6 separate regions of the Homo sapiens genome follow, and regions 1, 2, 3, 5 and 6 are each reported to be linked to region 4. The links are microRNA targets in miRTarBase. Many come from high-throughput screens and were not tested one by one. Region 4 holds a microRNA gene; each other region holds the end of a gene's coding sequence.
The links. Region 4 holds the annotated microRNA hsa-miR-5590-3p (AAUAAAGUUCAUGUAUGGCAA, at 3,274-3,294, shown strand). A microRNA usually pairs through its seed, bases 2 to 8, with sites in the 3' UTR of a target mRNA and lowers its output. Matches are read on the target gene's strand: a 7mer-m8 pairs with bases 2 to 8, a 7mer-A1 pairs with bases 2 to 7 and ends in A, and an 8mer does both.

Region 1: miRTarBase lists ERH as a target of hsa-miR-5590-3p. Seed matches in the 3' UTR shown: 8mer at 1,436-1,443.
Region 2: the mRNA of LZIC is a reported target of hsa-miR-5590-3p. Seed matches in the 3' UTR shown: 8mer at 2,559-2,566 and 7mer-m8 at 3,323-3,329.
Region 3: the mRNA of SLC38A2 is a reported target of hsa-miR-5590-3p. Seed matches in the 3' UTR shown: 7mer-m8 at 2,284-2,290 and 7mer-A1 at 3,007-3,013.
Region 5: the mRNA of LUZP2 is a reported target of hsa-miR-5590-3p. Seed matches in the 3' UTR shown: 8mer at 4,874-4,881 and 7mer-m8 at 3,401-3,407.
Region 6: the mRNA of TRIP10 is a reported target of hsa-miR-5590-3p. Seed matches in the 3' UTR shown: 7mer-m8 at 1,214-1,220.

What each region holds. Positions count from the first base shown.
Region 1 is chr14:69,376,254-69,381,680 of GRCh38, reverse strand. It overlaps ERH (ERH mRNA splicing and mitosis factor), which reads left to right. Exons shown (of 4, transcript NM_004450.3): 4 at 1,041-1,553. The coding sequence ends at 1,143. It also overlaps a transcript of GALNT16 not described here. Among named protein-coding and RNA genes, the nearest start is that of ERH, 19 kb to the left of the region's middle.
Region 2 is chr1:9,926,445-9,931,871 of GRCh38, reverse strand. LZIC (leucine zipper and CTNNBIP1 domain containing) reads left to right here. Exons shown (of 8, transcript NM_032368.5): 8 at 1,415-5,427. The coding sequence ends at 1,473. Among named protein-coding and RNA genes, the nearest start is that of LZIC, 14 kb to the left of the region's middle. RefSeq lists enhancers at 560-1,059, 3,549-4,058.
Region 3 is chr12:46,357,578-46,362,892 of GRCh38, reverse strand. SLC38A2 (solute carrier family 38 member 2) reads left to right here. Exons shown (of 16, transcript NM_018976.5): 14 at 255-399; 15 at 512-609; 16 at 1,684-4,705. The coding sequence ends at 1,782. Among named protein-coding and RNA genes, the nearest start is that of SLC38A2, 13 kb to the left of the region's middle.
Region 4 is chr2:134,854,580-134,860,006 of GRCh38, forward strand. It overlaps MIR5590 (microRNA 5590), which reads left to right and starts at 3,241; the gene lies at 3,241-3,294. It overlaps ACMSD (aminocarboxymuconate semialdehyde decarboxylase), which reads left to right. Exons shown (of 10, transcript NM_138326.3): 3 at 4,682-4,778. RefSeq lists a silencer at 4,346-4,546.
Region 5 is chr11:25,078,266-25,083,656 of GRCh38, reverse strand. LUZP2 (leucine zipper protein 2) reads right to left here. Exons shown (of 12, transcript NM_001009909.4): 12 at 1,019-5,103. The coding sequence ends at 4,999. Among named protein-coding and RNA genes, the nearest start is that of LINC02699, 370 kb to the left of the region's middle.
Region 6 is chr19:6,750,072-6,755,498 of GRCh38, forward strand. TRIP10 (thyroid hormone receptor interactor 10) reads left to right here. Exons shown (of 15, transcript NM_001288962.2): 13 at 221-360; 14 at 441-562; 15 at 992-1,459. The coding sequence ends at 1,140. SH2D3A (SH2 domain containing 3A) reads right to left here. Exons shown (of 10, transcript NM_005490.3): 5 at 4,760-5,244; 6 at 4,545-4,660; 7 at 4,180-4,354; 8 at 3,981-4,092; 9 at 3,385-3,570; 10 at 2,089-2,682. The coding sequence ends at 2,522. Among named protein-coding and RNA genes, the nearest start is that of TRIP10, 13 kb to the left of the region's middle. RefSeq lists silencers at 3,329-3,508, 3,679-3,888.

The DNA of each region.
Region 1 (5,427 bases), not on the chromosome of region 4:
GGTGGTGGGAAGTGAGGATAATTGTACCTACTCACAGGGTTGTAAAAATGAGTTAATTCAGATAAGAATTTAAAGCGACACCCAGTACTCTGTGACATCTTACTAGATACTACTCACAGTCCCATTGGAGTTTTACTGCTAATGCTAGTCTGTGTACTCCTTTTCGTTCTGATTAGAGATATTTTGGAGCTTACTGTATCTTCTGATAATTCTTCTCCATAGGCCTCTAGCATTATTTATTTTAAAAAGCAAATCCTAAAATATAGGTTTAAGATTTCCTTAATACTTTACAGGGGGAAGGAAATTAGCAAGAAATCTTTGTTGCCAGTACATGTTTTTTAAAGGTTTTTTAGTTAATTCAGAATAAACATTGCAAATCTAAAGTTTGTTCTAGTATTGTTGTTTTTGTTTTTTTGAGATGGAGTCTCACTCACAGGAGTGCAGTGGCACGATCTCGGCTCACTGCATCCTCCACCGGTTGAAGCAATTCCCTTGCCTCAGCCTCCTGAGTAGGCAGGACTACAGGCGTGCACCACCATGCCCAGCTAATTTTTGTATTTTAGTAGAGACAAGGTTTCACCATGTTGGCCAGGCTAGTCTTGAACTCCTGACCTCAAGTGATCACCCGCCTCAGCCTCCCAAAGTGCTGGGATTACAGGCATGAGCCACTGCACCCAGCCAATTTTTTTGTTGTTGTTTTTTAATCACTAAAGGAACCATAAAAATAGAAACTATGTAGGAGGAAGAACACATGGTTTCTGGTCATACTCTGTCAAGAAGTAGATATGTAACATATTGGGCATTTAACTTAAAAATTCTAAGTCATGTTTTCTTTTTCCACTATAAGATTGTACTAGGTGATATAAAGTTCATGTCACTTAAAATTCAACGACTGTGTAAGTAGCTCTTTCAGCTTTTCATTAAGTTCATTTTTGGAAATGTGCACATCTATGCCATCATTGGGCAGTTATAATTTGGGGATTTAAACACCTGGCAGTGATTGACCACTGTGACTTTGCTTATTCCCTTTCTCTCCTCAGTTACCGAGCTGATACCCAGACATACCAGCCTTATAACAAAGACTGGATTAAAGAGAAGATCTACGTGCTCCTTCGTCGGCAGGCCCAACAGGCTGGGAAATAATTGTGTTGGAAGCACTGGGGGGGTTGGGGTGGGCTTGGAACACAGGTGTGTACAGCGTGCTGTAGTGGAAGTTTTGTATCATAGTAATCCTGTTTCCACTTTGTTATACTCTAGCCAAGATTGACTGTATTAGATGAAATGTGAGGATCTTGTTCAATCGGAAACCCCCGTTACCTCCTCTTTTTCTTTCTCTTTCTTTTTTTTTTTTTACTTAAACATTTTTATGATGATTTAGATGGAAGTTGTTCTTCGTCACTTAATGTTGGTTCCAGTCCTTCAACTGTTCATATCTACTTTATAACATTCACATACTAACCCTTCTTCAAGATGGGGTGGGGGGTGGAAATGCAGTTTAGCCATGTCCTCAAGATAAAGTCTTGGTAAAAATAAATAAATGTCCTTTAGTTATATTTTCTCCCTGAGTGCTTTTTTTTTTTTTGTCTTTGAACATTGAATTTTCTTGCAAAGCATTTTTTCATTTTAAGTTTAAAAACCAATAGCTGCTACACAAAGAATTTGAAGAAAGTTTAAGTAGTGCGCAACACATTTTGCTGTGAAGCTAATAACACTTTTACCTCACTTTTCCAGCATAATTAAATGAATCTTAATTATAGCTCCAAGGTTTGTACCTACTATTGACGCAAACGTTATAAATGACTTTCTGGTGATAAAGCTTGTCCGCAGCAGCAGCAGCAGACAGATGAACTTCTTAGTGTTGATCAGATGAAGTACTCTTTCTAGGAGGTCTTTGTGCCCTTTTCAGAGCCTTCAGTTGGATACTAGTTACCCACTACTGTAGGGAAGCTATAAGGGCAAGGGAAAAACCACAAAAAAGTGTAAGATAGTCTTGTCTCTTTTTTGTTGTTGTTTTTTTGAGACAGTCTCACTCTGTACCCAAGCTGGAGTGTACTTCCAATCATGTCAATCATGTATTTTCAATCAGCAAGTACATGAGCACTCTCTGATTCTGCTATTAGCACTTTACCAACAGCCAGTGATATCTTGACACAGCATAAGATTGAAAGTTTTTTGGAAGGCTCATGATTGGTTTAATATCCCCCTGTTCCTGCCTCTACTTGCACATTAGGGCCTTAACTATTTTTTTTGTTGTTTTATGCAAGACAAAATTTTACCTAGAACATACTCATATGTGCTCAGTTTTTCTATAGAATAATCTGGTTAATGAAATGTTATCACTGTACCAAGAGATTATTAGAATTTTAGGGTACCTGACAAAATTAAGTAGAGTTGTAGTTAATGTTTCACTGTGAAACCAACCAAATTTTAAAGCTAAAATAGGCCGGGTGCGGTGGCTCACGCCTATAATCCCAGCACTTTGGGAGGTTGAGGTGGACAGATTATTTGAGGTCAGGAGTTCAAGACCAGCCTGACCAGCATGGTGAAACCCTGTCTCCACTAAAAATACAAAAAGTAGCCGGGCATGGTGGCACACGCTTGTACTATCCCAGCTACTTAGGAGGCTGAGGCAGGAGGATCCCTTGAACCAGGGAGACAGAGGTTGCAGTGAGTGAGCCGAGATTGCACCACTGCACTCCAGCTTGGGTGACAGAGACTCTGTCTCAAAAAAAAAATAAATAAAGCTAAAATAATCTCACACAAAAAGAAATAGATCCAAAAGTAATCTGATTGTCCTGTTTTTCATTTGGCCTGTCCTGCTAAAATAGTTTTATTTCTTTAACAAATAGAGGATCTTTGGCTTTATTTATTTATTAATTTATTTTTTAAATACTCTAGAGCAGATCTGAAGGGAATGAGTTCCCTTGATTCTCAGATATAGTACCATTTCTGGTGTTGGGCTTACAGAGGAAAATATGAGAAAGGAATGTGAGAAAGTATCTGGGTTCTAGATGTTGAGTGATGAGAACAAAAAGAAGGGGAGCAGTGTTTGGAATCATTAAAAGCTTAAGGAAGACTAGAACTGGAATAAATACAAAGAAACATTTGTCTATGTCCCATAATACACAGAAAAAGAGCCTAAAGTAGCCTTTTTGTGAAGGTGAAATGTGCAATGAAAGTTTCTGTGGTTTGGCCTAGGTACAACCACTGTCCTTGTGTTAGAGATTTAGAGTGTTGGTTGATTGGCCTTTCCCCAACCACAAGTAAAACAGGTTTGATTTCCGCTTATTAAGTGATATTTTATACTGCTACATAAAGGTGAAACCTCCCAGACAGATTATACAATTTCCGATTCTCTAATCCAGATTTATAATCTAAATTTATATACCTGAGAATTTCTAAAATATTTCTTGATAATGGCCATTTCTGTCCTGTAGTGCTTGATTTAAGAGGTCCCAGGAGTATAAAAAGAGTTCAACGATCTCACTTCCCTTCCAGTTCTCTGGCTTAATATATTTCCAGCAACTTACTAAATGCTCAAACAGGTTATGTGTCTTAACTCCCATTGTTGGGACAGAAGTAGTAGTGAACTGTTTTACTTTCAGCAAGAGAGGGACTTAAGGGATGAGCAAATAATTTTGTACTGTCCTAAAAGCAGACCAGGCTGGGTTGGGGGAGAGAGGACAGGGTAGTTTTCTCAGTATGATTGTCAACTTTACATCAGGATGGTCTTCCTTTATCAAATTGTTTTAACTAATCATTTGAAGGTTGGAATGAAAATCAGGATTGATACATAAATTGATTAATGTTACTATATTTGTAAGGATACTTTTATGTTCATGTTCTTTTTTTTTTTTTTTTTTTTTTTTTTTTTTTGAGACAGTCTCACTCTATCACCCAGGCTGTAGTGCAGTGGTGCAATCATGCCTCACTGCAGCCTCAATCTCCCAGGCTCAGGTGATCCACCTTAGCCTCCTGTGTAGCTGGGATTACAGGTGCACACCACCATGGCCAGCTAATTGTTTAAATTATTTTTTGTAGAGATGAGGTCTCCTTATGTTGCCCAGGCTGGTCTTGAGATCCTGGACTCAAGTGATCCACCTGCCTTGGCCTCCCAAAGTGTTGGGATTACAGGCATAAACCACTGCACCCAACCTAAGGATACTTTTGGAAGAAATATTAATTTATATGTTAGCATAATGATACTAGTATTGCCACTTAGACATAGCATTTTACTGCCTAGGAAATATTTCTACATATTTATCATCACAGCAACCCTTTGAGATAGGAAATAATTATATCTCTATTAATGGTAAAAATAAAAATAAAAATTTAGATTGCCTAAGTGATTCACCAGATCACAAAGCAATACCAAAATTTTGCTAGATGAAAAAGACAAGGTTTTAACCTCAAAGACCTTGAAGGGGAGCCCCATAATATGAATAGCTGTGCTAAATAATGGACCTCTAATTCTTGTCAAAGGGACCTTTTTAGACTCAATCAAATATTTGGATTCACAAGACCTGAAGAGGTCTTACTTGGCACCAATTTAATCAAAAGCACAGGGGACACAGAAAACAGCTTGCCAGCCCAGCATCATCAAGTGTTTCTCTTCCACGGGAGTATTCCTCATGGCAGTTCACACAGCCATCCAAGAATTATCCTCCGAACACACGGAAACACACAGTAGCTCAGATGCAAGAGATAAGACTTAGGTAAGTGCAAGAGCTACCCCAACTTAGAAGCTTCATGTACAACAAGAGCCACTAACTCTTGTAATAGCTTCATGGACATAGTTTCTAGGTCCCTGCAAGGAGCATGCCGCATTTACAAGTCATTGTATTCAGAGAAACACAAGGCCATGTCTTCCCATCAGGTATTCATTGTTTCTCCCAGTCTAGGTGTAATTTATCACATAAGGGCCATGTTTCTCATAAGCAGTCTTGTCTAGTAATACATTGCACCATTGTGTTTCCTCAGGAACAGAGCTACAATGTTAACCCAAGTTGACCATGAGTCAGTGTATTACATAATGGTGCAATGTATTACTAGACCAGATTGCTTATGAGAAGCATGGCCCTAAGTGGTTACCTTGGGTTAACTTTCTAGCTCTGTTCCTGAGGAAACATAATGGTGCAATGTATTACTAAACAGGATACTGATGGAATGATTAACCTCAGAAGAAAAAGTGACATGGAAAGTTGAAAGAGTTTGTGTTAAATGGTCTTAACTCATTAAATGAGTAAAATGAATTACTATCTTGGAGGAAAGGAGGCTGGGCATAGAATGGGGAGTCAGAAGAACAATTCTCAGAGCTCATACAGGGTGAGGAAACATAATCTGACCACTAGAGTCCTGTGTCACCAACTAAGGGATTCACTGAAGCCTCCAAAAGTGTTAAAATTTGTAATAAGACCAGTGGTCCCT
Region 2 (5,427 bases), not on the chromosome of region 4:
TGAAAGCTGGTCGTATACTACTGTCATATATTACATACAAACTGATGGAGAGTGTGGTTGAAATAACATAATAACCTTTCCTTGAGTTTAAGAGTGAAACCAGAATTGTTTTCTTTATAAATCCATTGTATTGGTTTTATTCCCCAATATTAAAAATAAATTAATGCAGCCTAATGTTTTTAAAATACTTGTCAGGTAGACGTAACTATAACAGAAAACTAAAATTATATGCTTGAGGCCAGGAGTTCTAGACCAGCCTGGGCAACATGGTGAGACCCTTTGTCTTCAAAATTAAAAAGCGGGAGGCCAAGGCCGGGTGCGGTGGCTCACACCTGTAATCCCAGCACTTTGTGAGGCCGAGGCGGGCAGATCACGAGGTCAGGAGATCGAGACCATCCTGGCTAATACAGTGAAACCCTGTCTCTACGAAAAACACAAAAAATTAGCTGGGTGTGGTGGTGGGCACCTGTAGTCCCAGCTACTTGGGAGGCTGAGGCAGGAGAATGGTGTGAACCCAGGAGGCGGAGCTTGCAGTGAGCCGAGATTGTGCCACTGCACACCAGCCTGGGCGACAGAGCGAGACTCATCTCAAATAAATAAATAAATGAATAAATAAACAAAATTAAAAAGAAAAAAAATTAGCTAGGTGTGGTGGCATGCACTTACAGTTCTAGCTACTTGAGAAGCTGAGGCAGGAGGATCACTTGAACCCAGATATTTGAGGCTGCAGTGAGCCAAGATCATGCCATTGTACTCCAGCCTGGGTGACAGAGCAAGACCTGTCTCCCCGCAAAAAATATTTCTTCTTTCTTTATTTTTTTTTTTCACAGAAATGTTTTAAAATAAATTTTATGGCCAGGTGCGGTGGCTCAAGCCTGTAATCCCAGCACTTTGGGAGGCTGAAGTGGGTGGATCACCTGAGGTCAGGAGTTCGAGACCAGCCCGGCCAACAGGGTGAAACCCTCTCTACCAAAAACACAAAAATTGGCTGGGCATGGTGGCACGTGCCTGTAATCCCAGCTACTAGGGAGGCTGAGGCAAGGATAATTGCTTGAACCCAGGAGGTGGAAGTTGCAGTGAGCCGAGATCGCACCACTGCACTCCAGCCTGGGCGACAAGAGCGAAACTCCATCTCAAAAAAATAAATAAATAAATAAATTAAATTTTACATATTATATTTCATAGCTAGAATAAGGATTTATAACTAATAAGTCCCCCTTTGTAGCTGGATTGTTTGTGCAGAGGGAAGGAAATTGGGATGGCAATGGGAACGTGTAGGGGTTAATACACTGATAATGGAGGCTAATTATATTTTCTGTTTTAATATCTATATGATAGATTTTTTCCCACTTTACCAGGAATTGCAACTGCACTTGAAATAATCTTTTTGTTTATTATGTGTCTTTTTTCTTAGGCTCTGGAGACAAAATTCTTGCTCTGGCAAGTTTTGAGGTTGAAAAAACAAAAAAATGACATGGTGCAGAAGCTTGTAACATTGATCACATTCTTAATGTAAATGGTGTCTTTCTTCTGGGGTTTTCAGTTATTGCAAAGAAATGAAGAGATTCTGGAAATGCATCAATAACCTAAGAAAAAGCGACATAAAAATATACTTATGGCTTGTGTTTATGCTCTTCATCATTGTGCGTTGTGTGCGGTTACCTGCTTGAGTGATCCTGAACTTGTTGCGACAGAGGGACTCACTGGACTCTGTTCGTTATGATTTGTCTGTTTAAGAGAGAAAACAAAGTGGACTTGATTTTTATTAAGGCTGTTTGTTTTTAAGTGTTGATAGTGAACGAAAAGATGTGAAGTAATGATATTTTTCTGCTTACAACTTATCCCCACTCATTGGAGTGAACAGTGACGCAAGCTCAATAGACTTCATAAGTGTTCATAGAATTTTACAATTCTGAGTGATCTTAGAAATCATTTCTGTTTTTACAAACAAGGAAACTGAGGTCCAGAAAGAGCAAGCGACTTTGCTTAAAGTCGCATCAGAGAGCTGAGGGTAAGACTCAGGTGTCCTGACTCCCAGTTTAGTATCTTTTGAATTTTATTTCTGTACCATTTAAAAAAAATAATTAACACTATTTGTGCAAGTCAGTGTTTTTGAAAATTCAGTGTCCCAATAAAAAGTGGACTGCACACTAAGGGACCATCCCCCAGCCTGTAAGCTGTCTGTATTAATGGGGCCCGTTGTATCTCGGAATTTTGAGGTTGGAACAATGGGAGCCCTGTTGAGCGTTTCCTAAAGTGACTTAGCCGCCTGCGTTGTTTGACCAGGGAAGCAACAGGAAATGGCAGCTAGAGGCCCTCCCTGTGCGTGACCTCTTGTCACACTCAGAGGGGGGTAACTGTCAGCTGTTATCTACTCTTCAGGTTTTGGAGAAACACAAAATAAGTTATGAGGAAAAGCAAATTTCTCTCCTGAGTATTTACATGTCTCTGTATGCTCAAATATGCAGATGTGTCCCTATGCGTGTATATTAGCTTATTTTTTAGGCTCTAGCCATTTTATATTCTTTCATGTGCTTCTCAATATTCTTTTTCTTTGCACTTTATACAAATTAAAAGCATTTTTAAAGCTTCTTCTGTACTGTAAACTACTAGGTGCTTTGCCAACCAGACAGATTAGAGGACCTCCGCTACACTGATGCCTTATTTGGAACTTAAAAGAGGTGAAATTCATATATCATAAAATTCACCATTTTAAAGTGTACCATTCGTTGGCAGAACATTTACAGTGGTGTGCAACCATCACTACTCTCTAGTTGCAGAACATTCTTATCACCCCCAAAGGAGGCCCTATACCTATTAAGCAGTTAGTCCCCATTCCCTTCTCCTCCGACTGCTAACAATAGCCACTAATCTGCACCCTGTCTCTGTGGATTTACCTATTCTGGATATTTCATATAAATGGAATCATATGATATGTGACCTTTTTATGTATCTGGCTTCTTTCACTTAGCATAATATTTTCTTTTCTTTTTTTTTTTTTTTTTGAGACAGAGTTTTACTCTTATTGCCCAGGCTGGAGTGCAATGGCGCAATCTCAACCTCCGCCTCCCAGGTTCAAGAGATTCTCCTGCCTCAGCTTCCCAAGTAGCTGGGATTACTAGTGTGTACCACCACGCCCAGCTAATTTTTGTACCTTTAGTATAGAGACAGGGTTTCACCATGTTGGCCCAGCTGGTCCTGAGCTGACCTCAGGTGATCCAACTGCCTCGGCCTCCCAAAGTGCTGGGATTATAGGTGTGAGCTACCACACCGGGACATCATCATATTTTCAAGTTTAACCAACATTATAGCATGTATCAGTACTTTATTCCTTTTTATGGCTAAATAATATTCCATTGTATGGATATCATATTTTGTTTATCCGGTATCTGTTGATGATTTGGGTTGTTTCCTTCTTTTGGCTATTGTGAATAATGCTTCAGTGAACATTTGTGTACAAATATTTGTTTGAATACCTGTTTTCAATTTTTTTGGGTGTACACCTAGGAATGGAATTGCTGCGTTTGTTGTTGTGTTGTTGTTGTTGTCGTTGTTTTTTGAGATGGAGTTTCACTCTGTTGCCCAGGCTGGAGTGCAATGGCGTGATCTCGGCTCACCACAACTTCTGCCTCCCAGGTTCAAGCGATTCTCCTGCCTCAGCCTCCCGAGTAGCTGGGATTAAGGCATGCGCCACCACACCTGGCTAATTTTGTGTTTTTAGTAGAGATGGGGTTTCTCCATGTTGGTCAGGCTGGTCTCGAACTCCTGACCTTAGGTGATCCACCCGCCTCAACCTCCCAGAGTGCTGGGATGATTACAGGCATGAGCCACCATACCCGGCCTGAGCCACCACACCCAGCCTACGTTTGTTTTTTAAGCCATAGAAGATTCTTCCCACCAGTCGGGCACAGTGGCTCACACCTGTAATCCCAGCACTTCAGGAGGCCAAGGCGGGCGGATCACAAGATCAGGAGCTCAAGACCAGCCTGGCCAACACAGTGAAACTCCATCTCTACAAAAATTAGCCAGGCATAGTGGCAGGTGCCTGTAGTCTCAGCTACTTGGGAGACTGAGGCAGGAGAATCACTTGAACCTGGGAGGCAGAGGTTTCGGTGAGCCGAGATGGCGCCACTGCACTCCAGCCTGGGCGACAGACTGAGACACGGTCTCAAAAAAAAAAAAAAAAAAAAAAAGAGGAAGAAGATTCTTCCCTTACCCTGCAATAGTAGACCAGAAAAATTAGGAATATCTTGAATTTGAAAGGGACCTAATGCCTGGCACAGTGGCTCACGCATGTAATCTCAGAACTCTGGGAGGCAGAGGTGGGCGGATCGCCTGAACTCAGGATTTGAGACCAGCCTGGCCAACATGGTGAAACCCTGTCTCTAAAAAAAAAAAAAAAATTAGCCAGGCGTGATGGCATGCACTTGTGGTCCCAGCTACTCAGGAAGCTGAGGTCAGAGGATCACCTGAACCTGGGAAGCAGAGGTTGCAGTGAACTGAGATCACGCCACTGTACTGGCTGACAAAGTGAGACCCCTGTCTAAAAAAAAGATAAAGAGAGTTACCTGAATCTGGAATCCTTAATCTTGGTTTTCCTTAAACTTTCTATAAGTCCAGCATCTGAAATATTTTGTCAATTATCACATTAATGTGTTCATTTTGTAAGTAAGAGTACTCAATTTAAAATGATCTTACTTTAAAAGTGGCCTAGTTTGCAGTGCCCAGCAGGACACTGACAGTCACAGCTGTGTGACTTTTTGTGGGTTACTTAATTTTTTTGAGCCTCCTTTTCTCTTCTATTCAATGAGGATAATAGGGCCTACCTCATAGGATTATTATGCATTCCCCTCTGTTAATGCACGTAAAGTTTTTACTTGGAAAACTAACTCACCATTTAACAACCATTCTAAGCACCATAGGATATATTTTGTTTCACAAATTTGGTATTCATTCAGAATAAGTATTTGAAAAGTGAGTAAATTCTATGCAATTATAGTTATTAAATGACTTATAAACTGTGTTTCTCTTCCACTTCTTGCTACATTTAATCTTCTAGGTGTTCAGATATCTTTGGAGATTATAGGCAGCAATAAAGCTAAGGCAGCTAACCTTTCAACATTCTTGTGTCAGGCTAATATTTTGGTGAAAGGAATTCTTGTGTTTCTCAAAGAACTAGAGCTGAAGCAGAAATAAGTTCCAATGAGCAAGTGTCCAATCGGACCATTGAATGAAATCTAGTGTTTTAAACAATTCTGATGTTTCAATGTTTTGTTCTGTTTTCTTTTGATCTTGTGAGCAGTAAGACATATTTTATGTGGGTGGTAAAGGAAGAAATCAAGTAACAGAATGAGGAATTGTTCCCAGGAAGAGTTAGAGTTGGGACAAATGGGTTGTTAACTTTGATTTTTAGATCTTCTCTGAAGA
Region 3 (5,315 bases), not on the chromosome of region 4:
GGGCTTTTTAAAAATACAGTGTATATTTTCAAAATACCCTGGGGACATTTTTTTCACCATAAGATATAAAATGATCTTTAAGTGTTCAGATGTTCAGGAAACAGCAGAGAAAGAGGCACAGTTTTATTTAGAAATAGTTACTATTTTGGATAGATTCCTTGTTACTTGGGCATTCTTTTCATTCATTGAAGCTGGATTTTTAAATTTTATATTGCTGCTATTTTTAAAATACATTTTATTTATTTTTTTTGCAGATCCGGAGTTCTGTAACTCACTTGTTGTGTGCATCAAAAGATTTCAGTTGGTGGCGTCATAGTCTCATTACAGTGTCTATCTTGGCATTTACCAATTTACTTGTCATCTTTGTCCCAACTATTAGGGATATCTTTGGTTTTATTGGTAAGTTTTAGAAAGTATCCAAGTGGATTCAAACATCAGGGATTTTAAGATTTAAAGAATGAATGACGAGTGGTTCATTGAATCCTCAAGAAACATAAATGTTGTTTTACAGGTGCATCTGCAGCTTCTATGTTGATTTTTATTCTTCCTTCTGCCTTCTATATCAAGTTGGTGAAGAAAGAACCTATGAAATCTGTACAAAAGATTGGGGTGAGTGAAAGATTATAACCATAGAAACAGTAATAATATCATAAATTTCCCCAACTGATTTTAATTTTATTCTCATAGCTGTTATTTGTTATGGTTTCACTTTTAAGTTTCCAGCAAACATTTCTGTAATGGTATACTTCACAGATGGAAGATTGCAGAGGGAAGGGGAAAGATAGTTTGCCATCTAATGAACACTTAAATTAATTGCAATAAAGTTATTAGATACTTTGGAGATAGGAATAGGGATGAAGACTAGATGAGATACTCAGCTTTCAACATTTGTTCAACCAGTTTTCACTGGACTGCCTACTGTGTGACAGGCACTTAAATGGGCATTGAATATATAAAAGAGAAGGAAGGGCTGTTTAGTTGAATGAGACTGACCATCTTCAGAGCGAAGCTCTCAGGGAGGCCGTCTCTTCATGGTGTTTACTATTATGTATCTACTCTAAAGTGTAGTACCAGTTGGTGACAGAGAATGATGTGCTAACCACAAATGATGTGGTTCCTAGAACCAGAATCCTGGTGGTGATATTTAGGAAAAAGACTGCTTTTTAGTCATTATTTTCTCCTTCATTCTGCTCTGATTAAAGTACTAGAATTGTTTATAAACCAACAACTGTCATCTTGTTTTACTCTAAATTACATAGTGGCAGTATTGAAGGGTAGGATTTAGGAATTAGTATTTCCTGGAAAGACCTCTGGCTTTGACTTTTGCTGCATTTTAGGATGATTTGGGTTTGATTTTGTGACTTGACTTTCATTCTAAAAAATTGCAAAAAAAAATCCAGTCCAGTTCTATATGAAGCAGTTTGTTTAGCAAGAAAATTCCCTGTCACTTGAGACAAAGGAATGAAAAAGTGAAAAAGTTCAGAAGGCCTCAAAGGTAGTTATTGTGTACTGCAGATAACATACTGATCACTTAGGAGTTTATATTTAGCAAGTTAAATATTCTTTCTATAGATTATATAGTGGATAGATTTTAGTAATTAAAGCACATTTCAAAAAATAGAAGAAATGTTTAGCATATATGTTTTATTACTTGCTGATCAATTTTCTCTATGCTCTTTGCAGGCTTTGTTCTTCCTGTTAAGTGGTGTACTGGTGATGACCGGAAGCATGGCCTTGATTGTTTTGGATTGGGTACACAATGCACCTGGAGGTGGCCATTAATTGGCACCACTCAAACTCAAACTCAGTCCATCTGATGCCAGTGTTGAGTAAACTCAACTACTATGAAATTTCACCTAATGTTTTCAGTTTCACTTCCTTTTGAAGTGCAGATTCCTCGCTGGTTCTTCTGAGTGCAGAATAAGTGAACTTTTTTGTTTTGTTTTGTTTTTTTAAGAAACTTATCTGTATGTTAGAAATGGATATGAACAACAAAACCACGAGTCTCGGGTTAAGGGAAGTGACAATTTTATTCCATTCCAGAGAATGGACAAACTCTTAACTTTTATCAAGCCACATGCTTGGCTGTGTCATTGTTTAACTTGGATATTTTATGATTTTACTTGAATGTGCCTAATGGAACCATTTGATGTGAGAAACAATTCTTTTTAATTTACAGCAAAATATTGAATAACCATTGACAAAAACACTATTATTTTTTGTACCAAAAATACTTAAAGACCTCAGAAGCACTCTTTTACTTTTAAGAAATTGCTTTTTTGAACTTTATTCAGAAGCAGTTATCAATAAATTCCATAAAATAATGTCATTGGTATTTAAAAATGAATATTAATATAATGAAATGGTTTGCCTTTTTGTAGGCATAATAAGCCAAATACTTTTTTACCCAAAATAATTTTTAGAGAAAATGATGTAATGAAAAATTGTACCATGAATTAGGAGCATAGTTTTTTCCATTTAAACGTCACCATTACTTAAAAGATGATTGATTATTGCTATACCAAATCAGATGAACTCTGTTCATCACTTTTCTTCTCTGTCCCCAAACAATTTGGTTCATTCAGACTGAAATGTTTGTGTCTTCAACTTATTAGAATGGAAGATAATGCAGATATTTCTGTGGGAAATAAAATAACTAATTTTGAGGTACCAAATAGTGCAATTGGGTAAAACAGGGTTTATTCAGTTGCATCTGTCTCCAGTGTTGTATTGACAGCTCTGGGTCTTTTTTTGGGCCAGCCCTTTTTTGACATTGCTTCCAGCAGTGGAAAATGGGCATTTGATGGCAATAGGCCAAAATTATTGTGTCCAGAGAGTACACTTTTTCAAAATGCTCACCTACTGGAAGTGTGAATTACTTGACAATGTATGGCTTAGTTGTGTTCATGTTTTGTCTACAGTAGAGGTCTAATCCACAGGTTACACCTATGTTTGATATGATATAAGTTCTCTTTGCGTAGGCCACTGGGTTTCTCATGCAGTAAGCTTTATAAAAACTCATTTGCACTGGACTGTCATCTCATTCTTGTACAACGTAGAATTACTTGTTTACATCCAACAAATGGTTAGCTAGGGAAAACAGTGCAAACTGAGTGTTAGTAGTCATTTTGGTCCAACTGCATGTCAACCCTTCCATTTCAATCCCAGTTAGAAATGAAAATAATTACTTTGAAACTTGGCTTTAAGAGCACATTTATCGTACGTCACAGTGTATGGTGAATATATTATTAAATAATGTGGTACTTCGCTCATCAGGCATAATGTCTAAAATCTAATATACATAATTCCATTAAGTGGTTGAAGGAAGCAAATAATGGAATTGTCAATTGGTCATCTGGCTGTAAGGTTTGCCCTTGAACTAAAAATGTTGTTTGGGGCAAGGGCCAGAAATGTGGAGACATGGTTTTTGTTACGCATTCTTGTATTATATGTGACTAAATTTACAAACAAGATACATGTGTAATTAAAGACCCTTATGGAACTGGAAGACGTCTTGTAGTGCTACATTGGGTGAAACCGTTGGTCCATTTTTGTCTGTTTCTATGAAGATAAAATAATTGGGGGCCATCTAGAAATAGAAAGGCAGTGGGAAGACAGATTCTACGGCACTGCTTTCATTTAATTGGGCTTTAGGCACTCCATTCGAATGCAGAACCTCACCTCTAGTTGAGACCAAGAATTGGCAAATTTGCATGAGCTCCTGGAAAGAGTTGCTGACTTTGTATCTAAGACCTGCCAGGGAATACCAAGAGTTGTTTCTACAGACTTTTTTTTTTTTTTTTGTATGGGAGAAGATACTGTGGCAACCAGGAAGGAATGGAAAAAAAATTCTTTTCTCTACAGCAAATTAATGTGAGGAAGCTCCTCCAATCCTCTGGCTATTTAAGGTTCAAAATCAAGTGCCTAGGGAAAATTCCAATGGATGATTTTCTGGGAGCTATCTTGTCTACCTTGAGGTTCCTGAACAATGAATTCCCATTAATGAGCAGTCTTCAGTATTAAAACCACTGTCTTGTCACCTCATTTTGCATTACTGTCTTCCGTGGATGTTTCAGTTACAACTGTAATGTTATTTATAGAACAACATTAATCCATTAAAGCTAACCTATTTTTCAATATTTATGATAATCTATGTACATATATTGTCTGTCCATATGTATTTGTAAATAGGTTGTATATAATGTCAGGTTTGGGTCTTGGGTTCAAGTGTATATATTCCTGTAAGTTTCTTAACTGCATTTTGATGAATTCACATTATGTAACTATAAGAATTGTCCCAAAAGTACCTGTACAGAAAATTGAATATTGAAAAATTGACAAATTGTGTACAAACACTAAAAAAAACTTGTTTAAATTGTATTTGCAATAAACAACATCAAATTTTTTCATGAAATCTTGGTACAAATTCAGATCTCTTATTTAAAATTTAAATAAGGAATACATTTTCAAAATGCAGTAATCAAAATGTGATCTAGTGTAATGAAATAAAATGTGATCTAGTGTAATGGAAGACCTTTGAGAACCTGGGTGTATTAACTTTGTGTATATAGTGTAAATATCCCCACTGTACTGTTAGAGGCCAACAATTCTAGTATGGCTTGTTGGCAAAGAGTGCTACACCGTTTCAATGAAACAATGTATGTTTGTTTTAACTGAACTAAAATAAATACATGCTTAATCCTGAGTAGCAGTGTTTTTTGTTTTGTTTTGTTTTGTTTTTTTCAGGTAATGGGATAGGCAGTGTCTAATGCAAATTGCATTGTAACTGCAGTACCTAGCACCTAGTAGGTGTCCATATGTTTGTGATGAATGGTCAGGAAAAAAAGTTTAGGTTCCCAGAGATTCTAAGTTTCCAAAGTGAGAAGGAATGGAAAGTCTTGGAGAGTTGGGGGAAGATGCTAAAATGCATCATAAGAGCCCAGGCTCAGCCCTGCTGATGGAAATAAATAGGTCAATAATGTATCAGAATCAACTGGAGAGCCTTTTAAAACCACAGCTTTCTGAAACGTGCCTAGTTTGTCTGATTGCAAAGGTCCAGCTGTAGGGTAGCCCAGGATCTGGTTTTTTACTTAAGAAGGCCACTCGGGTGATAATGATGCACAAACTCCAGGAGCAATCAAGTGGCCTGGAAAGAAGTTGGGATATGTTCAGTTTGGTGAAAAAGTCACAGGAAAAGAGGAATTAATGGACAAGCTGGTGCGTGTAACAGCATGGTTTTACTTGAGCAACAGTGGAAGTGGGAAGGTTACTAAGATACACAGGCTAGTTTAGGTATGGCCTACTGATAAGTCCGA
Region 4 (5,427 bases):
CTACTTCCTCACATTGCTCACTTCCAGGTCAAAGTTATATGCACAGGTGGGTGCATATAATTGGCAAAGCCCAGAGCACATGCTAATGCCCCATTACAAGGGAGACTGGGAAAGCATATTTTGGATTCTACCTCAAGAAAGCAGAATTTATAATTGTGAACGTTACTTCACACATAGGATGTGTTCCAAGGATGTTGGATGGCCACAAGCATGACAAGTATAATGATCCACATTTTACAGACAGAAAAAGTGAGGCTTAAACTCAGAGGGCCCGTAACTTCACCAGTCAGTGCTGCTACTAAGTAATTTAATGAGATTTAAACCCAGAGCTGTCTGAATGCAAAGACTGTGCTCTTTGGCACTCTGCTATACTGGGTATTTTATAGTGATTAAGCTTTCCCAGCAAGGAGCAAAAATAAATAAATCCTCCAATTTGCCAAATCAAAGTTTGTTTCTCAACTTTTTTTTTTCACCATCACCCCTCTCCTCTCCCTTCTTCACCAAATGAAAAGACATGTGTTCCTATATCCTATTTGTGCAATCATTATCAGTCAGGACTCTTGGTTGCAGGCAACAGAAACCAACAATCATTAGTGTAAGAAGAAAAGAAATTTGTTGAAATATTTTAAGCCCCTCAAGAACTACAAAGTATCTGTGGAATCAAGCTCAGAAAACTTGCAGAAACTCAGGGAATTCCCATGATTGAAGCCACAGCCAAGGCAACACCACAGGAACAGCCTGGCAAGGAGGCTGCTGCCCCAGCTGGATACTGCCCCCAGCACCACTGCCAATAGCCACTGTACATGGCCACTGCTGGAATCACTGGCAGAATAAATTCAACTCTTCCTGTTTTTTTGCATCACGTAATGCAAAACCAAGCATTGATTGGCCAAGCTTGGGGCAGGGAGAGCAAGTATTTGGCCTTCTGCAGAAGAAGGCTAGGCCCTGCCTCCACCACGACTGCTGCAGGAGATTCCCCAACCTAGGAAGTGGTTCAGATGCTGGCATGGTCAACGGAGGATCAGAGCTGAAGCACATCAATCTTGGTGTCCTGATGTCAGAGACCCAGCTCTGCTAGTGTGTGGACACCTGTCACAATTACACAAGTCAACTTGCTCACTGACCTGTTCCCCATCCCTGAGAAATAAAATGTGGATCTGAAGTCTTCCTCATATATGTGCAAAATGAACAGGCTACAGCACTTAAAGGTGAAAAGCATCCAGACTTCTTCATGCAGGAGATGGAGTAGAAGGATGTCTTGTCTATGGAGTAGAAGGATGAAGCCTTGGATGCAATTCATGATCAAGCCAAGAGGAGGAGGAGGAGAGCAGAGGACTCCACCAAGCAGAGCTCAAAGCCTTTGATCATTGCACACCCACTTGGACATTCTATGGGGCCCAAAGGTAACCTTGAGGCCCTGAAGCACCACCAAAGGTGGTGTGCCCTCAAAGCAGAGGAACACTGTCTAGCCCCTAGTTATACAACATTAATAACAAATAACCATAATAACACTTATGTGTCAGATACTCCACTAAGCGCTTTATATGGATTATCTTATTTCATGCTGACATGATCCCTTTAATGTAAGTCACATTAATTTTTTAAGGTAAGTCATTATCATCCCTATTTTAAAGATAAACAAACTGAAGCTTGAAGATATTGTTTAACTTGCTCAAGACCACATAGTAAGTGGCAGAACAAGAATTTGAATTCAGGCAATTTTATTTCCAGGGCCTACCCTAGTTCTTCCCCTTTTCTTTAGGAATCACAAACTGGAGGCCCAACGTAGATGCCACTGCCATGTTCTGCACAACCATTTAGTTTGGTCCCCTGCTCTGAGTATTAAAAAGTTGTGTATTCCATAATGGCTGTACCAGTTACCAAATAAGAGCATACAAGGGTTCCTTTTTCTCCGCATCCTTATCAACACATTATCTTTTGTCTTTTTGATAACAGCCATCCTAACAAGTATGAGATGATATCTCATTTCTCAATGATTAGTGAAGTTGAACATTTTTTCTTATACCTATTGGCCATTTGTATATCTATTCTGAGAAATGTCTTTTCAGGTCCTTTGCCCCTTTTTTCACCCAGTTATTTGTTTTCTTGCCATTGAGTTCTTTGAGTTCCTTATATAGTTTGGATGGTAACTCCTTATCAGATATATGGTTCACAAATATTTTCTCCTGTTCCATAAACTGTCTCTCTACTCTGTTGATCGTTTCCTTTACTGTGCAAAAGGTTTTTAGTTCCTCCAGCTTTGTTCTGTTTGCTCCAAATTGCTTTGACTATTTGAGATCTTTTGTGGTTTACATGAAATGTATGGTTTTTTTTTCTATTTCTGTAAAAATGTCATTGGAATTTTGGGGGGCATTTTATTAAATCTATAGATTGTTTTAGGTAGTATGGACATTTAAACAATATCAATTTTTCAATCCACGAACATGGGATGTTTTTCCATTCGTCTGTGTCTTCTTTAATTTTTTCATCAATGTATTATAGTTTTCAGATCTTTCACCTTTTTGGTTAGATTCATTCCTAAGTATTTTTAAATACTATTTTAAATGGGATTGCCTAATGCTGGGAGCAGTGGCTTATGCCTGTAATCCCAGCACTTTGGGAGGCTGAGGCCGGTGGATCATGAGGTCAGAAGTTCAAGACCAGCCTGGCCAACATGGTGAAACCCCGTCTCTACTAAAAACACAAAAATTAGCCGGGCGTGGTGGCGCATGTCTGTAATCCCAGCTACTTGGGAGGCAAAGGCAGGAGAATTGCTTGAACCTGGGAGGCAGAGGCTGCAGTGAGCCGAGATCATACCACTGCACTCCACTCCAGTCTGGGCAACAGAACAAGACTCTATCTCGAGAAATAAATAAATAAATAATGGGATTGCCTGATATCTTTTGCAGATTGTTAACATACAGAAATGCTATGGGCTTTTATATATCAATTTTGTATTCTGCAACGTTACCCAATTTATTAGTTTAACAGTTTTTTGGTGGAATATTTAGGGTTTTCTATGTATAAAACCATGTTGTCTGCAAACAAAAACAATTTAACTTCTTTCATTCTGATTTAGGTGACTTTTGTTTCTTTTTCTTGCTTCATTGCTCTGGCTAGAACTTCCTTTATGATGTTGAGAAGTGGCAAAATGAGCCCCCTTGTCATGTTCCTGATCTTAGAGAAAAAGTTTTCAACTTTTCATCATTTTCACCATCAAGTATGATGTTAGCTGTGGGATTGCCATACATAGACTTTATTGTGTTGATCAACAATAAAGTTCATGTATGGCAATCCCACAGCTTTATTCCTTCTATACCTAATTTATTGAGGTTTTTTAAAGTCATAAAAGGATGTAGAAATTTGTCTGTATCTATTGATATGATCATATGTTTTCCTGAGAAAAAGTAAAAATAGAACTACTATATGATCCAGCAATTCTACTTCTGGCTATATATGCAGAGGAAATGAAACCAGTATGTTGAAGAAATATCTGCATTCCCATGTTCAATGTAGCATCATTCAAAATAGCCAAGATATGGAATCAATCTAAGTGTCCATCAGTGGATGAATGGATAAAGAAAATGTGGCATATATACATAATGGAATACTATTCAGCCTTTATAAAAAGGAAATTCTATCATTTACAACAACATGAATAACACTGAAGGATATTATGTTAAGTGAAATAAGCCAGACATAAAAAGACAAATACTGTACTTATATGTAGAATCTAAAAAAGTCTAACTCACAGAAGCATCAAGAAAAATGGTGGTTACCACAGGCTGAAGGGGTGGGGAGAGATTGAGAAGGTCAGAGGATATGAAATTTCAGTTAGACAGGAGGAATAAGTTCATATCTATTGCACAATATGGTGACTATAGTTAATAAAAATGTATTGTATACTTGAAAATTGCTAAAAGAATAGATTTTAAGTGTCATCACCTCAAAAAAAATAAGTATGTGAAGTAATGGACATTTTAATTAGCTTGATTTAGCCATTCCACAATGCACACATATATCAAAAGATAATGTTGTACAGCATAAATATATGCAATTTTTATTTGTCATTTAAAATGTATAAAAATTATTGCTGTGTACCCAGGCAAGCATGATGCCTGGTGGAAGAAGTAGCTCAGTACCAAATTTTGTGCTTGCTACCAGACTGACTTCTTTGCCCACCTCCTCCCACAGGTATTGACACTAGTGGGCCCTGCTCTGTTTGACAAATCATACACTGCCATTATCCATATATTGCTTCTCCATAAAATGAGAGGGTTGGACTAGGTGGTCTATCTCAAAGGTTCTTTTCAATTCTAAATGTTATAGAACTACCATTTTCCAGACGCTGGGCCATCCTCTTGTATCTAGTAGCCAGGGGTTCAGATCAGCAAGGTGATCAGCCATTCTCAGTCAGGCAGCCCAGAGAAACATAACCTCAACCTTGCTATCTCTGTGTCCAGCCATTGACGCCCACAGAGCACACCCCTTCAACTCTAGGCCAAAGAAAAGCATGAGGAAAGAAAGCTGATTTTTGTTAAATTACTGATTTCTACTTCCACAAGGATTAAGTAAAAATCTTTTCAAATATTAGGGAAGAAATACGTTCTAAAGCACATGAGGAAAGATTAGTCCAAGTGGTCTTAGGTTGCATTTTAGTAATGTGGGTTTTCTGCCCCAGGGAGAAGCAAAGTTGTTGAAAGATGGGAAAGTCTTCAGAGTGGTGCGAGAGAATTGCTGGGATCCAGAAGTTCGTATTAGAGAAATGGACCAAAAAGGTACGATGAGAAGTGCTACCAATGTTAGCATCTGATGTAAAAGCAATGTCTGCCCTTAAAGTTTGCTGACAACTTTATGTGATGGTAACTTCTGACCCCCTTTTCTCTGCCAGGACAGGCTGTTCCAGCTTCACTGTGGGAGGGACAGGGCCTTCCACTACAATGCTTTTAGAGTGTGGATTCAAAATGTTTCATATGAGTTATACCCTGTTTTAAAATAGAATGCTATATCATGAAAAAGATAAAAATGGCATTTTATTATTTTTAAAAATTAGTTCAAATGTATAGTATTTACTTATTATAAAATCAATTAAAATAGTAAAAACTGGAAATCACAAAACTAAGAATGACAATTGCCTGCTTAATAACACTTAAGATCCAATTTCTTTCTGTAGTTTGTCTCGGTGCATCATACACAGAACATTCCCACTGACACATCAGGGTTGGAAATGGAAGCAGTTAAAAATAGTTAATTGTGTAATCTCAGAATACACTACAATAAAATCAATCCAGAAATTTGAAAGAAGAGAATTAGGAAGTGTTCGTTTCAAAGCTGAATTGCTAAAAAGCTATAAGAACATCTTGCACTTTTTACCTTATATCTAAAAATCAAACAAGTCCTCACAATTTAAAAGAATTTCAGAAAAGG
Region 5 (5,391 bases), not on the chromosome of region 4:
GGGAGGCGGAGCTTGCAGTGAACGCAGATCGCGCCACTGCACTCCAGCCTGGGCGACAGAGCGAGACTCCGTCTCAAAAAACAAACAAACAAACAAACAAACAAACAGAATCTAGAGCCTATCCTCTTGATATTCATTTACCTCTCGGTAGCCCTAGAGTTATTTTTACTAAAGGGCTAGGTCTCTTCAGAATGTAGAAGAAAATCTCTGTTTTAAGCCAACTGCTTAAGACCCAATAGATTAGGAAACGAATGCTAAAAGAAGTGACCTGTGCATGTCCAAGTATGTGTCAGAAGTGGGTGTCAATTAAAGACTCATAAAGTCCACGTGAAATATTTCTATTGCATTGACCTACATTTCAAAATTTACCCAGGAGTGCCTTATCTACTCTGCTTAGAAAATCCCAGCCACAGGCCTATTATTAAAGCTTTTAGAAAAAGAAAAAGAAAAAGTAAAAAAAAAAAAGATAGTCTAAGAACAAAGCAACAAACGAAACAAAATGCTTATTTTTGGTTCTTATGGTTCTCTGTTCTCATGCCAATACATGCTCCCTTGCTGCTCCCCTGCTTGTTCCCTTGCTGCTTCAGCCTCTAAATTAATTTATTCAACAAATGTTTGAGCATCTTGTATGAGGCAGCTAGCTCCAAGCACTTGAGATTAATTTGTGAGGTGATGGATATGTTAATTAGCTTGATATAATCATTCCGCTACATGTGTGTTCATATATAGAGATACATCACATTGTACCTATTACACATCACAATAATTCATAAATTAAAAATAAAAATTCAAATTAAAAAAAAGACAAAATCCCTGTGACCATGGAACTCTATTTTTTTTTTTAAAGAAAGCACCTGCAAAATAAAAGATTTTGGGGTCATTGGCAAAGAAAGATTAAAAAAAATTTCAAGATGCTATTTAAGAAAAGTTCTTACATCCTGATACACAGAAGCAAGTACCATTTTTAATGTTCATATCTGCTTTTTCAATTAGTTTATGTAAGATAATATACATTGTATTCTTGTAACAATCTTTATTGAACAAAAATAGGCCATCTTTCAGCATCTTTTATTCTTCATCATTCGACTGTTATTATATAACACAATCCAAATGAACACATAGTTTGGGGAAATTTAGGACTATACACACGACTAAGAAAATGTCTCCTAAGTAAACAGTATGTGTTTTCTTCATTGTCTAGGTCTGGCCAGTTCAACCTACTCTATGGTACTCTACGGTGTCAATAATTATTTCAGTCTCTGCTGCAATTAGTGCTAATTACAATACCTGAGCTATAAAAATAAAAGATTTCATTATAGCAAAGTTCACAAATATCGTTTTAGTTCAGTTATCCACATTGTTCATCTAAAATAATACATTTTCTTTACATATAACTGTCTTAGACTTGTAATTGAGGATATTTGATGAAACAGATCTGTATCTGAAACAGCACTATGATGCTAAACATTTGCATAAGGAATGAAAAAAGTTAGCAACCTAGTTTTTTCAATATTCAGATATTTGAGATTACACAGAAAACTACATCCAGATGAATGACTGAATTATTCACTTTTCTTCTGAGCATTTTGGCATTGGATAGACACAGCATTCAAGTTTAATGCATTTTAGGAACAGGTTCAGTTTACATATTTAACGCACATTAAAAAAACACAAAGCCAAAAGAAATTTCTAATTTAGAAACATATACATCAAATACATAGCATTGATTACTATTTTAAAATAACTATAGAGAAATACAATTGTTGGTTCTGGTTGTACCTCTATTAAAACAAGTTACTCCATTGGAAAATATCTTTTTTCTTAATAAGAATCAATTCCATGTTTTTCAAAATGTAAATAATCTTTCAATGCTTATCATTACAGGTACATAATAGAATTATACTATCTATAGTAAAGATTTAGGTTGATATTTTATTCTATATGAGGATGGTTGGGATTTAAGTGTTAATTCCTTTAAAACAACGTCTGTTTATTTAGTTGTTAATTAAAATATGTGAGAAATGGCCCCTCTCTCATAGACACATTCACAAATGTAAGAGGAACATTTTAAACTTATCCGATTCTATTTTGAAGCAAATAAAAATTGAGATAAATAAAATGCATTCATTAAGGTACAGTCATAGAACTTACTGAAAGAGAGTCTCTAACTTAGTTATTAAAAGGAACTCCTAAATATATTTTTAAATGTCTCCTGCTACAAGTTTCTTTTTTTTTTTTAAACAAATGATGCAATGAGTATAACACAGTAAACTTTGCTGGATGTATAATGCCATATATATTTAAAGGAAAAAAACACACTGGCCAGGCACGGTGGCTCACACCTGTAATCCCAGCATTTTGGGAGGAGACTGAGGCAGGTGGATCGCCTGAGGTCAGGAGTTCGAGACCAGCCTGGCCAACATGGTGAAACCCCGTCTCTATTAAAAATATAAAAATTAGCCGGGCATGGTGGCAGGTACCTGTAATCCCAGCTACTTGGGAGGCGGAGGCAGGGAGAATCACTTGAACCTGGGAAGCAGAGTTGCAGTGAGCCAAGATCGCTCCATTGCACTCCAGCCTGGGCAACAAGAGCGAGATTTCATCTCAAAAAAAAAAAAAAAAAAAAATCATATGGATCCAAAGCCCACTTGATCAAGCCAGGAATTAATAAAAGGAATTTAGAATATACAGAACAAAAACAACTTTAAAATGAAGATTGATAAAAACATGATTAATATCAACCTGAGTTCTTACCTTTCAACATGTTATCTCTCATAACAATTTCAGGAAATAACAGCCTGATTCTTCTTTTTTTTCATTCCAAAGATGCTTCAAAACATGCTGTGCTAGATTACATGGTGAATAACTTTCTATAGGACCCACAAGGCCTGCAAGGGAAGTTGGGCCCCAGGGTGGAGGTGGGAGACTGAACATAAATTAAAACTAAATGATCTGCTTCCCTGTCAGGAACCTATAGAGATGGTTAGGGCCACTGAGAACAGTGGGAGAATTACAAGGAACAGGACTTGGGAGACTAGCAGTATTCTAGTTTGTATGATTATTTTTAGAAATATGAAGGAGTCAGAAGAAACCTCAGACCTTCATCTTTTATTTTATCCTAGTCACTTCATCTGAAAGCTCTATGGATCATCCATAAAGCTAATTATTTTTTTCCTTGGGTAGCCGGTTTTATGAAAAATATGAATGCTCCTTGATTTAACAATAGGATTACATACAGATAAAGAAGTCAAAGGTTGAAAACATTGTAAGTCTGAAATGCATTTCAGATACCTAAATGGAAAATCATAGCCCACCCTAACTTAAACCTGCTTAAACGTGCTCAGAACATATACCTCATCCTACAGTTGGGCAAATTGTCTAACACAAACCCTATTTTATAATAAAGTGTTGAATATTTCATGGACCATGTATCACTAGCCCTCCAAAAAATAACAAAATTCAAAATTCAAAGCATGTAGAAATTATGAAGCTTTCACAGAATCATGAAAAAACCGTTAAGTTGAACCATTGTGGTTGGGACCTGCCTGTGCTAATGAATGACACTGAACTATTCTGAAAATAGAAGTGCTACATAAATATGTCATAATATTACTTTTACAGCTAACGATATTTTCCAATTCTCCAAATCTTTAAATTTCTTTAAATATGCCATTTTGATCAGAGGTATGCCATTAAATCTCAGAATCTAAGTTCATTTATTGATTAAAGATTTCCTTTAATACATTTTTATTAACTGTCTCCTAGGATACACTGATCCAAATGTATATATTGTGGTTTGACAGATCCATCCTGCAAAACCAATGGTTTAATATGCTTTCTACGGTTGCAAAAAGGTTCTAAACAAAAGAAATGACTTTTCAGTCCAGACAACTTAACTGTAGTCATTAACTGAGTCTGCAACTTTGAATGCCCTATGAAACCTATTAATCAGATAATTATTCAAGGGTCAATTCCTCTTGCTTGTGAGCTATCTTCCAATTATTCATGAGTGCATTTTTTTGATTAGTGATATTCCTATAGAAAATCAGAACTCTTATGGATTAACACTGCCATTGATTTGTTTCAATAACACATTGGTTTTCAAAAAATATGCATCTGGGTTTATTGAATCAACATGGCTATTGTACTTTCATCAGACCCCTGTTTTGTGATATATATTACCTGCTTTCATATTTGTATTTTAGAACTCACTCTTCATTCCCTATTCCACTACCCAACTTCATACCAAAAATCCTGCCAAGTATTTCAGAAAACTTGGTTATTAACTTGGATTAATTACAGTAGACATACATAGGAGATGTGTCTATAGAATGCCAAAATATTTAATTGTGTCAGAAATTTAGTCATTCATCCAAATATTTTGTCCATATGATGCCAAACATACTTAATGAATTATGTTAGCTGACAAAATTCTTAACAGAATTGTCTTAGCATTATTTAGACAAAATAATTGTTATTAGTTCAAAATAATACCAATAGCAATAAACACCATCAAAGAAACAACGTATTTAGGTTGGCACAAATTCCAACCTTGAGGAAAATGACTTCAGTTGGCTCATGTGGACCAAACCCTTACTGATATGGTTGTAATTTGGATTCTAAGAATGCTGAGAACCCACAATATTTTATTATCCTCCAGTTGATTTTGACAACTATATCATAGAAGTACTAGATATCCAAATGAACCGGGAGAATTACATGTTAGATAGCATTTGAGTTAAACCAGACCAATTTATATGGGACAATTTACTGTTGACAACAAAATATTTCTGACTGTGGGTATTCAATTCAATGAGGTTATTGCTTAAGGATCATAATTGGTCTGGAATCTTTGAAAATGTGTAGGCTACTTTATAAAGTTACATAAAATTGTGAAAAAGTTGCATGCTTTAGAAACAGTATTTCCATCAAGCTTGTGGTCTAAAAAGAATATGAAGACAATAGCAAATGGACGTTTTTAACACAGTTTCTTAGTATTTACAGTATTTTTTCTTCTCTAGCTGCCATCCCTTCAAAGCTGGTCAATGGTTTTTCTGGGGCTTTTTTCACCTCACATTCAGAGCAAGGAGGCATTTGCAATTTCTGTTAAACAATACAGAAAAGACAATTCGAAGAATCAAAATAACACATTTTAAGGTAAAAATTGAAAAGTCTAAAAGAATAAGAATGGAAATTCAAAGATCTCAACAAATATCTTAGAGAAAATGAACACAGGACAGAAATGAAACAAATGTGAAGATGTTAATTATATTTCATAAAAGTACATAACAATATTTTGCCTAAAAACAGCAAAACATTTCAAAAACTATTTTGAAAAAACTTTGCCCAAGCCATTCAATTCTGTTTAATCTAATTCAAAGTTTGAAAATA
Region 6 (5,427 bases), not on the chromosome of region 4:
GAAAGACCCTGGGGAGGGGCGGGAGCCAGCGGGCCTGGCTGAGTCACTGCTGGGTGGGGTGGGGGGTCGGGGACAGGGGAGGTGTTCGGAGCGGGGGGTCTCCAGCTGTTTTCCATCACAGCCTTGGCTGTGCGTGGGTGATCTCAGGGAACCTCTGGGTCCAAAGTGGGCTGACCCCGGAGCTCTGCCCTGGAACGATTTTCCTGTCCCCTCCTCCCAGGCGTGGCTGGCAGAAGCTGAAAGTCGAGTCCTTAGCAACCGGGGAGACAGCCTGAGCCGGCACGCCCGGCCTCCCGACCCCCCCGCTAGCGCCCCGCCAGACAGCAGCAGCAACAGCGCATCACAGGACACCAAGGAGAGGTGAGGGGTGACGTCAGAGTGGGTCTGTTCCCAGGGTCCCAGGAGGGCCTGTCTTTATCTGCCGAATTATCCCCAAACAGCTCTGAAGAGCCTCCCTCAGAAGAGAGCCAGGACACCCCCATTTACACGGAGTTTGATGAGGATTTCGAGGAGGAACCCACATCCCCCATAGGTCACTGTGTGGCCATCTACCACTTTGAAGGTGAGAACGGCCAGAGTGGGCTTGGCGGGGTATGGGAGGCAGTGTCTCTGGCTAGGTTCAGTTTAAATTCGCCTAAAGCAGGGCTGGGCGGGTGGCTCAGGCTTGTAATCCCAGCACTTTGGGAAGCTGAGGCAGGCAGATCACTTGAGGTCAAGAATTCCATACCAGCCTGGCGAACACGGTGAAACCCCATCTCTACTGAAAGTACAAAAATTAGCCAGGTGTGGTGGCGCACGCCTGTGATCCCAGCTACTCGGGAGGCTGAGGCAGGAGAATCCCTTGAACCTGGAGGCAGAGGTTGCAGGGAGCCAAGATCCGTGCCACTGCACTCCAGCCTGGGCGAGAGCGAGGCTCTGTCTCAAAAATAAAAAATAAAAATAATAAATTTTGCCTAAAGCAGATCTGGGCCCACCCCCACCCCCATCACAGGGTCCAGCGAGGGCACTATCTCTATGGCCGAGGGTGAAGACCTCAGTCTTATGGAAGAAGACAAAGGGGACGGCTGGACCCGGGTCAGGCGGAAAGAGGGAGGCGAGGGCTACGTGCCCACCTCCTACCTCCGAGTCACGCTCAATTGAACCCTGCCAGAGACGGGAAGAGGGGGGCTGTCGGCTGCTGCTTCTGGGCCACGGGGAGCCCCAGGACCTATGCACTTTATTTCTGACCCCGTGGCTTCGGCTGAGACCTGTGTAACCTGCTGCCCCCTCCACCCCCAACCCAGTCCTACCTGTCACACCGGACGGACCCGCTGTGCCTTCTACCATCGTTCCACCATTGATGTACATACTCATGTTTTACATCTTTTCTTTCTGCCGCTCGGCTCCGGCCATTTTGTTTTATACAAAAATGGGAAAAAAAAAAAAGAAATTATATAAAGTTCCTAGAGTCGGTGTCTTATTAGAGGATTTAAATACTGGGACTGGAAGTATCTAACACCACGTTTCTTACAGGCCACACAGGGAATGAGGAAGGGGAGGTGATCTTGGGCACACCTTGGGTCAACCCTGCCCCTTTCTGGAAGTTGGCCTATGTCATTGTCAGTGGGTGTCTGCTTGTGACTCAGGTAGGGAGAAGGATACCAAGTTTCTTTTTTTTTTCTTTTTGAGACAGTCTCACCCAGTTGCCCAGGCTGGAGTGCAGTGGCGTACGTGATCTCAGCTCACTGCAGACTCCATCTCCCGAGTTCAAGCAATTCTGCCTCAGCCTCCCAAGTAGCTGGGATTACAGGCACACACCATCATGCCCAGCTAATTTTTGTATTTTTTGTAGAGACAGGGTTTTGCCATGTTGGCCAGGCTGGTCTTGAACTCCTGACCTCAAGTGATCCATCTGCCTCGGCCTCCTAAAGTGCTGGGATTATGGCGTGAGCCACCGCACCTGGCCAGGACACCCAAGTTTCATCCCTTCTGAATGCACTGCAGCTTCTGAGAATGGGTAGCACTTATTGAAGACCTACTGTGTGCCAGGCATTCTCCACCTGGGGTCTCATTCCTGGCCACAATTCTTAGAAAGTACACAGCCTCAACTTTTACATTTTTTAAAAGTTTTTTATTTTTCAGTTTTTGTAGAGATGAGGTCTCACCATGTTGCCCTGGCTGGTCTTGAACTCCTGGCCTCAAGCCTTCCTTCCGCCTCGGCCTCCCAAAGTGCTGAGATTACAGGCCTGAGCTGCTGTATGGCTATGATTTTGTTAAAGGCCGACACAGAGGTGAAGTCAACTGCTAGAAATCACGGCTTTTAAGAGGTGGAGTCACATTTGAACTCTGGCCTCTGATGCCAGATCTGCAGGTCACATGTTCACCATGGTCCAGGTGACCCTGACTGCGGTCCCCACCTCTTCTGTGAGGCACAGGGCAGGATTCCACCTGAGGCGCGAGGAGCCTGGGACGACTCCTTTGGTCTCTTCTGGGGTTCGCAAAAACCTGGGGGTCCCGGGTGTGAAGAAGGGTGTCTGCGCTCTCAGCGGTCAGGCTCCAGGCGCTGCGACAGGACGCCGAGGACGCGCTGGAACTTCTCAAAGCGTTCAGCGCGCGGAGCTCCCGCGCCCCGGCTACCCCAGAGCAGCCTCCGCACGAAGCCGGTGGTCAGGGCCTCCCTCAGCTCCGGGTTAGGCCGGAATCCTGGAAGCAAGGTCAGGTGGGCTGGGGGCGGGGCCCAGGCGCCCGCCTCGCCCCTCCCAACCTCCCGGCACCTTCCTTTCCCCAGAGGACTTTGACCCAACAGGGGCCCGGGAGGGACCTGCCCCACCTGCGGGATGACTAGGCGGGGTCAGAGGGGAGGGGGCTTCCAGCTCTCTGCAGGAATGGGGGTGGGGTGCCTGAGGGGCTCTACCGCAGTGCAATGGGGTGGCCTGTTCCAGGTGCCAGATCCTGGAGGTCCCGCCTTAGGGGCTGTGCCTGGACGTGGGGCTGCCCCGAGGACGGGATCCCAGGTTGTCGGGGAAGGTGGGGGGATCTTGCCGGGTGGGCTGCCCTAGGATAGGACGGAGGAGTCGTTTTGGAGGGAGCAGGGCGTTCTTGGGGATCGAGATCCCTGGGGGACGGGATCGTCTTAGGTGGGAAGGGGGAGTGGGGACCCGCGGAGGTGGCTCTGGGGGCAGGACAGCCCGTTTTGAGGTGGACGGCCCTGTTCCTATCAATACCGCTGGATGCAGCGTTTGCTTGGGGTGAGAACCTTCCTGGAGTGGAGCCGTCCCAGTTTGGGTGGGGCTCCGGGAGGCGTGGCGAGAGGCTCCCCTCCTGGGACAGGCTGGGTTTGGGGGATCCGGTTAGAACCTGCAGGGTGCTCTGAAGTCTGCAGTCCAGCGCAGAGGGAACGCTCACCTCGCAGGCGCTGGGCTGCCACCTTGCGGAATTTGGGTGCGTCCCGGACCATGTGACGCGCCCCGTGCAGGGTGCGCAACAGCCGCTCACAGCTCTCGTCCAGCGGCCCCGCGACTTCCTCGCCCTCCAGTAGGCGAACCATGGGTGCCACGTGCGGCAGCGCCACCTCGCCGGGGTCGCAGGGTCCTGCGGAGGGGGAGGGTCTGATCAGGGTTTGGGGCTGTAGATGGGGCATAGGGCAGAGGTGGAACCTAGGACAAATGCAGGGGCGGGGCTTAGGACTGAGCGACAGCGGGGTCTGTGGAGAGGGGCCAGGACCACACGCCCCGTATGGAGGGCGGGGCCTATGGCGAAGGGGCGTAGCCTAGGGAAAGGGGCTGGGACCAAGGCTGGTGGGGGCGTGGCCTAGGAACAAGTCTCGTGTGGAGGGCGGGGCCTAGGGAAAGGGCCAGGACCAACCCTCATGTGGAGGGCGGGGCCTATGGTGAAGGGACCGGGCCTAGAACAGATGCAGGGACTGGGCATAGGACTAGATTGAGTCCTGTTAAATTTGGTCTGGGCCCCCAGGGGATGCTAAGCCCCAGACCTTCACTTACCAGCGCCCTCATCCAGAGCCCGCATCAGCGGCTTCAGCTCCTGCTCAAAGGCCAGCGCAGCCTCCGTGTGGCTCCTTCGGAGCTGGCGCCACGTGTGCTCCAACCGGGACACCTGGGAGAAGAGATCTGAGCACGCCTCCTCTCCAGTCTTCCCAGTCACCCGCACTCCAGCTTCCTCCAGTCCCTGCTCCCCACGAACCTGGGGCATGAGCAGGGCGCCCATGACTGCAGCCAGCCCGGGCAGGTCCCCCGCCGCCCCTGGCCGCAGCGCCAGCGCCAGCTCTACCAGTCCCCTCAGTGCGGCTGCGCGCTCCTCCAGCGGCCCCGAGCAGCCCAGCACCGCCAGCGCCCCGGCCAGCGCCAGTGTCTGATGCCTGCAGAGGTGGAGGGCAAGGGTCTGGGGGAAGTGGGGAGGTTTGTAATGCAGGGGTGAGGGGGGACAGGAGGTGGCATTGCCCCATCTCCCTTCTTCCCTGGGGAACCATGAGTGGGGAGCTGTTTGGAGATCTTGGGAAGTGGGGGGAATTGGCCTCCCCCAACCAAGATTACAAGCTGCTGGCTCACCTCTCCAGCAGTTCCAACCTCAAGTGGTGTCCATGGGGAAGAGTGAGCAGCTCCAGGCCAGATGAGACTCCCATGTTGCCCCGCTGATCTCTGGTCACTCCCAGGAGGCCTGTGGCCTGCAGAAGGGAATGGGGAAGTCAGGTGAAGCGTGATTATGTAGGCATGGTTGGGTCTTGCCCTGGGCCTGGGGAGGAGCATCCCAGGAGGTGACCCACCTGGCAGTCTACCAATAGCAGGTGAAGGGCGGTGCTCCCAGGATGGTGCTCCAGGAACAGGCCACGGAGGGTATGCAGGACTTGGGGTTCCAGGGGCCGATTCTGGGGGCCCAGCAGGCAGGAGGGGGCATCATGGGGGCAGAAAGAGATCTCAGCCTGTGGTCTTGTAAAACATCTATTCTCTTCCTCCTCATCCTCCTCGGCCTCCCACCATGGGGCCTCTGGCTCTGGGCAGCTTTGGCTCGGGGATGTTCCCTGGACACTGGGCACTCGGGGCACCAGCTCGCAGTACGTCGGGGGACGTTCAGAGGCATCAGGCAGTTCGAAGGAGGGTGTCCGGGGGGGCTTCGTTGGTGCCTTGGCTTGAAGCTGCCCATCGGAGGCCCTGAGACTGTCGGCAACAGTTCCCAGGGGAGCAGGGGCCTTCAGCAACACCGGGTCACTGCTCGTTCGGGGCAAGGCAGATATGGGCATGGTGGAGGCTTCTAGAGGTCATACAAGAGGGGTCAATGGGAATACACAGGGAAGATTGCTGAATGGGCGGGGGTGAGAGCTTCATCGGCTACCACCCACCTGATCCATCCACTCATTCCAATAATGGGGTATAACAACCTATCCGGGTGCAGTTTTGAATTTCAACCACCTCGACGGTAGAAATGCTACATGCT